Linked DNA regions of Homo sapiens. The protein of the gene in region 1 interacts with the protein of each later gene in a pairwise test. Each region holds a gene or a part of one and is shown in the gene's direction. Other genes may lie near its edges. The genes, in order: KIR3DL3 and TNMD.

What was found.
Region 2: the proteins of KIR3DL3 (region 1) and TNMD interact in a two-hybrid assay, tested with the Homo sapiens proteins (one large-scale study listed by BioGRID).

Annotation. Positions count from the first base shown.
Region 1 is NC_000019.10:54,730,691-54,734,520, forward strand, and holds part of KIR3DL3 (killer cell immunoglobulin-like receptor 3DL3 precursor), read left to right. Parts: intron 1-3,830.
Region 2 is NC_000023.11:100,597,617-100,600,671, forward strand, and holds the end of TNMD (tenomodulin), read left to right. Parts: coding exon 1-41; intron 42-1,399; coding exon 1,400-1,566; intron 1,567-1,891; coding exon 1,892-2,101; 3' UTR 2,102-2,269; downstream 2,270-3,055. UniProt on the Homo sapiens protein: May be an angiogenesis inhibitor.

The DNA of each region.
Region 1 (3,830 bases):
TGCATATGAGTGAGAAATGGAAATACTTGTAATGACCTCCAGTTCCATTCATGTGGCTGTAAATGACAGGATGTTACTCTTTCTATGGATGAGTTGTCCCTATTGTGTGTGTGTACCACATTCTCTCCATCCATTCACCCACTGATGGGCAGGTAGGTTGATCCACATCTTGGCTACTGTGAACACTGCTGGAACAGTCATGGGAGTGCAGATGTCACTTCGATACGCTGATGTCCTTTCCTTTGGGTTTACACCCAGTCATGGAATTGCTAGATCCTCTGGAAGTGTCTTTTTACATTTTGTTTTATGGTTTTTGTTTTTGTTTTTGTTTTTTTTAGACTGTTTCACTCTTGTTGCCCAGGCTGGAGTGCAGTGGCGCCATCTGGGCTCACTGCAACCTCCACCTCCAGGATTCAAGAGATTCCCCAGCCTCAGCCTCCCAAGTAGCTGGGTTACTGGCTCCCACCACCACACTCGGCTAATTTTTATATTTTTAGTAGAGACAGAGTTTCGCTATATTGGCCAGGCTGCTCTTCAACTCCTGACCTCAAGTGACCTACCCACCTCGGCCTCCCAATGTGCTGGGATTACAGGCATGAACCACTGTGCCCGACCTCATTTTATTTTTTGAGGAACTTCCATACTCTTCTCCTCTGTAATGGCTGTACTAATTTACATTCGTATCAGCAGTGTACCAGATGCAACCCTGGTTGACTCAGCAGAGCAAGAGACGTGCAGTAAGAGAGAATTTAGCTTATTTATGCACACGACACTTCCACTCACTCACTCGTTCAGCCAATGCCCCATGCTCAGGCTGTGCAGTGTGGAATCTTTTCCTATTGTTGCCATAACAAATTTCCACAAGCTTCGTGGATGAAAACATGTTTTTCTTAATTATCTCACAGTGCTGTAACTCAGAAGTATGAACTGCATTTCACTGGGCTGATATCAAAGGGACAGTAAGGCTGGATTTCTTTTTAAGGTTCCAAGCAAGAATCTGCTCCTTAACGTTTCCCAGCTCCTAGAGGCTCCCACGTTCCTGGGCCCCTGGTCCCCTTCCTCCTTCCTCCTTCCTCAAAGCCCACAAAGGCTGGTCACGTCTCACATGGCATCATTCAGACTCTTCTTCTTTACCCACACCTTTTTCTCTGAATCCTGCTCTGCCTTCTTCCTCATCTTTTAAGGACTTTGGGATTCTATTGGGGTCACCAAGATAATCCATCTCAATCTCCCTAAAATCATCCAGCGTACCCTCTTTTTAAGTTCAGCTGATTAGCAACCGTAATGCCATCTGCAATCTTCATTCCTCCTTTCCTGTAAAATAACATATTCACAAGCTATGGAGGCTAAGACAGGGACATTTTGGGGGTGGGGCAGCATTCTCCTGCCTTCCACAAATGGTAAACAGGATGCATTTGGCCTCTGCTCTTGGGACGCTGATATTGCAGATGGGTAAATGCGAGGGCAGAGAATGAATGCACAAGGGTACCAATAAATGAATGATCCATTGGGAAGCATCTGTGCACCAAATCTGGGGTTTTTTGTGTGTGTGTGTGTTTTTTGTTTTCTTTTTTTTTTTGAGTAGAGTCTCTCTCTGTTCCACAGGCTGGAGTGCAGTAGCACAATCTCAGCTCATTGCAACCTCTGCCTCCTGGGTTCATGCAATTCTCCTGCCTCAGCCTACCGAGTAGCTGGGATTACAGCTGTGCGCCACCACACTCGGCTAATTTTTTTGGTATATTTTTTTAGTAGAAATGAGGTTTCACCATGTTGTGCAGGCTGTCTCAAACTCCCAATCTCAAGTGATCCCACCGCCTTAGCGTCCCTAAGTGCAAAGATTACAGGCGAGAGCTACTGCGCCCAGCCAGGATTTAAAATAAGTAATAGATAATGCTGAGTATATAATTTCAGGTGACAGAGAAGGTCTCACTGATCAGATAATATTTGTGACCTTAATGGAAAAAATGGATTCAACCCTTGGAAGATTGGCGGAAGGATTTTCCACACTGAGCTCTCAGCCGTGAAGGCACAAAGGTGGAAACATTCTTAGTTCAAGGAAGAGGCTCTGCCTCAAATGCTGGGAATGAGATGGGGAGAATGACAAGACAACTGTAGAGAGATGGAGAGCACACTGGGTACACAGGAAACTAAGGAGGAACAAGGAGCATGTTTTTGATACTCACAGCCCTTGGATTCAACTCAGAGCTAACTAGGAATCCCTACCTGATTAACAGTGACCGACATGAAAATAAGGGAGGCCCAGGTGCGTAACTGGAATCTAGGAGACCGTGGAAAAGGCAATTCCCGCCCCACTGGTGAAACGTAGGGTTGATTTACACACTAAATGAATGAAAGATGGATATAAGCTATGCTTGTGAGGTAGAATCATTTGCAGGGAGGGCTTGCTGGGTTTGATTTTTCCTAGTAGTTTAATCCTTGTTTCATTAATTTCTTTCTGAGATGTGTTTTTTTTCTACATCTAAATCAATACCTGGCAGAGGAGCGATAGACACATGAGGGGTGGTGCAAATGAAGGGACCTAGTATAATATAATATACAAGACTGTGGATGGGGGCTCACACCTGTAACCCAACACTTTGGGAGGCCAAGGCGGGTAGATCACTTAAGGGTAGGAGTTTGAGACCAGCCTGGCCAACATGGTGAAACCCCGTCTGTACTAAAAATACAAAAATTAGCCTGGTGCATTGGCACCTGCCTGTAATCCCAGCGACTGGGGAGGCTGAAGCAGAAGAATGGCTTCAACCCTGGAGGCAGAGGTTGAACTGAGATCGCATCACTGCACTCCAGCCTGACACAGGGGGACTCTGTCTCAAAAAATAAAAATAAAACATACATAATTATGACACACAGAAATTACAAAGGCAACTGGATACCAACCATCATTTTTCTATTTCTCTGTGTTTAATTCTTTGACCCTTTATCTTATCCATTAAACAATCAGGTTAAACCTCTTCCTTATTTGGCTTTCTGTGAGCTTGGGATCATATGGAAAATGTGAAAGCCTCCTGAACCCACCAGCACAGGTCCTGGAATAGAGAACGTGCTCTGTTCATGGCATAAAACTTGCCCCTTCACCCAAATCCCCCAATTCATCTCTACTTCCAATCACCTATGGAGATACAGATAGATCATGGGGAGGTAAACACTAATACTCTTTGGAGTGAGCTCAGATCTTGGACTCAGAGACCAGTGCCAGCACTAGCCCCTGGTCACATTTCGTACTAACTCACAGAAGGACAGGCTGTATTGAAACAATAAACGACGGAGAGGGCGGTCCTTCCCCGTGCTTCTCGGGTGGAATAGCAGCCTAATATATGTCTCAGCAGATCACAAAAAGTAGCATGTTGTTCCTGGGCTACATCATTATTTCATGGCTGTTTGATTTAAGTCAGTTCTACTTCACTTTTTTTATCTTGATTTCATTTTTTCTTTCTTTTCTTGGAGAATGTAATTTTTTTGAGTCAAGAGGGTTGTGGTGGTAGAAACTGTAAAGCACATTCGCTGTGTATCAATCCCAATCCAGTCTTCCCAGAGAAGATTCTAAACACCTCCTGGAATGCACCTGGGCCTATACCAATTCCTATCACTCACCGTCACTCCAGGGAGACAGAACACACAGAGAACACATTACACAGGCAGGTTCATTACTAACAGATAAGCAGCGAGTGACAACAGAAACCTACATTTCAATGTGAGCCAGTCCCTCAAGGCTCAGAAAAGCTGCTCGAGACATGTGGAGTCACCCCATATGCAGTGTATCTGGGGGAAATCAAAAAGCAGCCCAGCCTGGGTTTTGTACCCTGGAGCCA
Region 2 (3,055 bases), on another chromosome or scaffold:
TAACGTGACCATGTATTGGATCAATCCCACTCTAATATCAGGTATGACATTCTTATCCTCATCCTCCTCCTATTTTCTAAGACAGTAACAGGTTAATGTTCCCAGCATTTAGAGGCTACATTTCTAGGAAAACAAATGATCGGTTTATATCTTCTTGGATGAGTCTATATATGCTGACTGCCAGTGAGGAGGGAATTTTTCACAGCCAAGTTATAAATCAGATAAATTAATGTTGACAGGCTTTTAAATATCCCAGCAAAGGTAACACCACCCTAATGTGACTAGTGATAGCAAAAAACTAATCTGTCTCTCTTTGCACATCTATATTCATTGCAGTCGGTATGCCAGACTATTGCTCAAACCACTGTGGGTCCAACCCAAGAATAGAGGAGAGAAGGGCAAAAACAATGCTCTGCTATCAAGAAGGATTCCCTATGTCAAATGGTGGCATTTTCCTTAGAAGATAGGACAATCACTGCAATACAAATTTCTTTGTTGCTGTTTTAGGAATTACTATAAAAATAGTTGAGGGCTTGATGTCCAGAGTAGAAGAGTCCAGCCCTCAACTTCCAGTCAGCCCATAGAGAAGGTAAAGGCCCCTGGATGTCTTAGTCTGTTTAGCTAACATGGAATTTGGCCTCCCTCATTCTGCACAGCATAGATTACTCTATTACCCAAGAGAGGTTATTCTCACCAATGTAAGCATCTGTGGGTACTCTTTAGAGATATTAAAAAGGTGACTAAATGCAGTGTGGTATCCTGGACTGGATGCTGGAACAGAAAAAAACATTAGTAGAAATACTAATGAAATCTGAATAAAGTCTGTAGTTTAGTTAATAACATTGTACCAATTCTAACTTCTGATTTTTGATCATTGTACCATGGTTATGTGAGGTAACATTAGGGGAAACCGGGTGAAGAATATGTGAACTCTGTACTATTTCTGCAACTCTTCCATAAATCTAAGATTATTTCTAAACAGAAAGTTTAAAAAAAATTTAAGACAAGAAACATAAGGGAAGTGGGAGGACAGAGGATGTCAAATCAATTCAGGCAACCAAGAAATATTTATTGAGCATCTACATGGGTAAAATCATCATTGTAGGAGATACAGAAGTCCCTTGTCCTCAGTTTTTAATTTAGTGTGCTATTAAGTCAAAGCAGTAAATGTTTGATGCCAAAGAAGCAAAGAAGTTTGTGTATGTAGAAATGATCAGGCTTGTTTTGGAAACTACTCTAAAATATCAGCTGAAGGAGCTTGGAAAAGTGGTCCATGCCTAAATGATGCCAGTTAGAAGACACAATGAAAATCTCTATCCCCAGCTGCTATTCTCCCAAGCACTTCTTTCAGGAACATTTGCAAAGCAGTTGCATCACAACTTTGCATTTATTATCTTAGTTTCTGAGTTACAAGACTTTGAGGAGGAGGGAGAAGATCTTCACTTTCCTGCCAACGAAAAAAAAGGGATTGAACAAAATGAACAGTGGGTGGTCCCTCAAGTGAAAGTAGAGAAGACCCGTCACGCCAGACAAGCAAGTGAGGAAGAACTTCCAATAAATGACTATGTGAGTTATGTTTATGTAAACTCTTGATAGAGGAGGAAAAAAGAGCCCTCACAAAACTTACTACCCCTCAGATCACAATCATTGGAAGGAGAACGATCATGGCTTTAACAAAAAAAAAAAAATGTTTAAGAAACTTGGAATCTCCAGGAGGCTCATTCAAAATCAATCTCGATCTCTGTAGATATATCTCCATGATCAGGCTAAGGAGCTTAATTTCTCACAAGCCCCCAACTCATACAGTCTTCTAGTTCTCCCCTGCTTGGTGAGAACTCTTGCTAGTGAACCTTCCTCTCCCACCCCCAACACTGGCTTCTTCTTCTTTCAGACTGAAAATGGAATAGAATTTGATCCCATGCTGGATGAGAGAGGTTATTGTTGTATTTACTGCCGTCGAGGCAACCGCTATTGCCGCCGCGTCTGTGAACCTTTACTAGGCTACTACCCATATCCATACTGCTACCAAGGAGGACGAGTCATCTGTCGTGTCATCATGCCTTGTAACTGGTGGGTGGCCCGCATGCTGGGGAGGGTCTAATAGGAGGTTTGAGCTCAAATGCTTAAACTGCTGGCAACATATAATAAATGCATGCTATTCAATGAATTTCTGCCTATGAGGCATCTGGCCCCTGGTAGCCAGCTCTCCAGAATTACTTGTAGGTAATTCCTCTCTTCATGTTCTAATAAACTTCTACATTATCACCAACAGCCTGATTGCTGCTGAACACACTGGGTAAGTGTTTGCTGAGAATATTCACAGCAACTGAAATGGAGCAGACCCGTCAAACATAGATGACTATGCTGAGGCTCAGAAAACAATGCCCCAAAATGAAAGCCTCAGAAGCAAAAGTTTTTCTCTGACCTTCTCCTACCTGCCAGTCTCTCAGTCCCATTCTCCCCCGAGGCTAGCCATAAAAGCTAGAATCCCTCTTCCTCAAGGCGTGTCATATAAATCAAAACCCCTTTTTTCCAAAGCCAGCCTTAAACCTAAAAATATCACTCTGATTTTTCCTCTGCTTTTCTGTGTAAAAGCTGGCCATAAGGAAATTATCTGACCTACCTTGTTTGACTGTAGGTCATAAGACTCCCTTTCCAGAGAGGATCCAACACAACAGGTTTGGAAGTAGAAAAGGGCAAAGCATAATGATACCTAAATATCATATTTTACTCTGCTGTATTAAGACAGTGGAAATAAGGAGCTGATGATAAAATGTCTCCATAACTGATGCATTAAAAACATATCCTTTTGTGCATAGCCCCAGTGTTTAATTATATGAAAGATATATTGTGAACTTCCTTAAGTATCAATTAAGCTGCTGGACAGGCAGTGAGTCATAGCAGGCCAACACTAAAATATTCCAAATGTGCAGACTCAGCAAAGGAGAAAGCTAAACTAGCAAAAAGGGTCTCAGGCTCTCCTCCTATAAACAGGAACTCAACTTAGGACAAATTCAACATTCCATAGCCTTCACATCTGGCTCCTCTTTATATC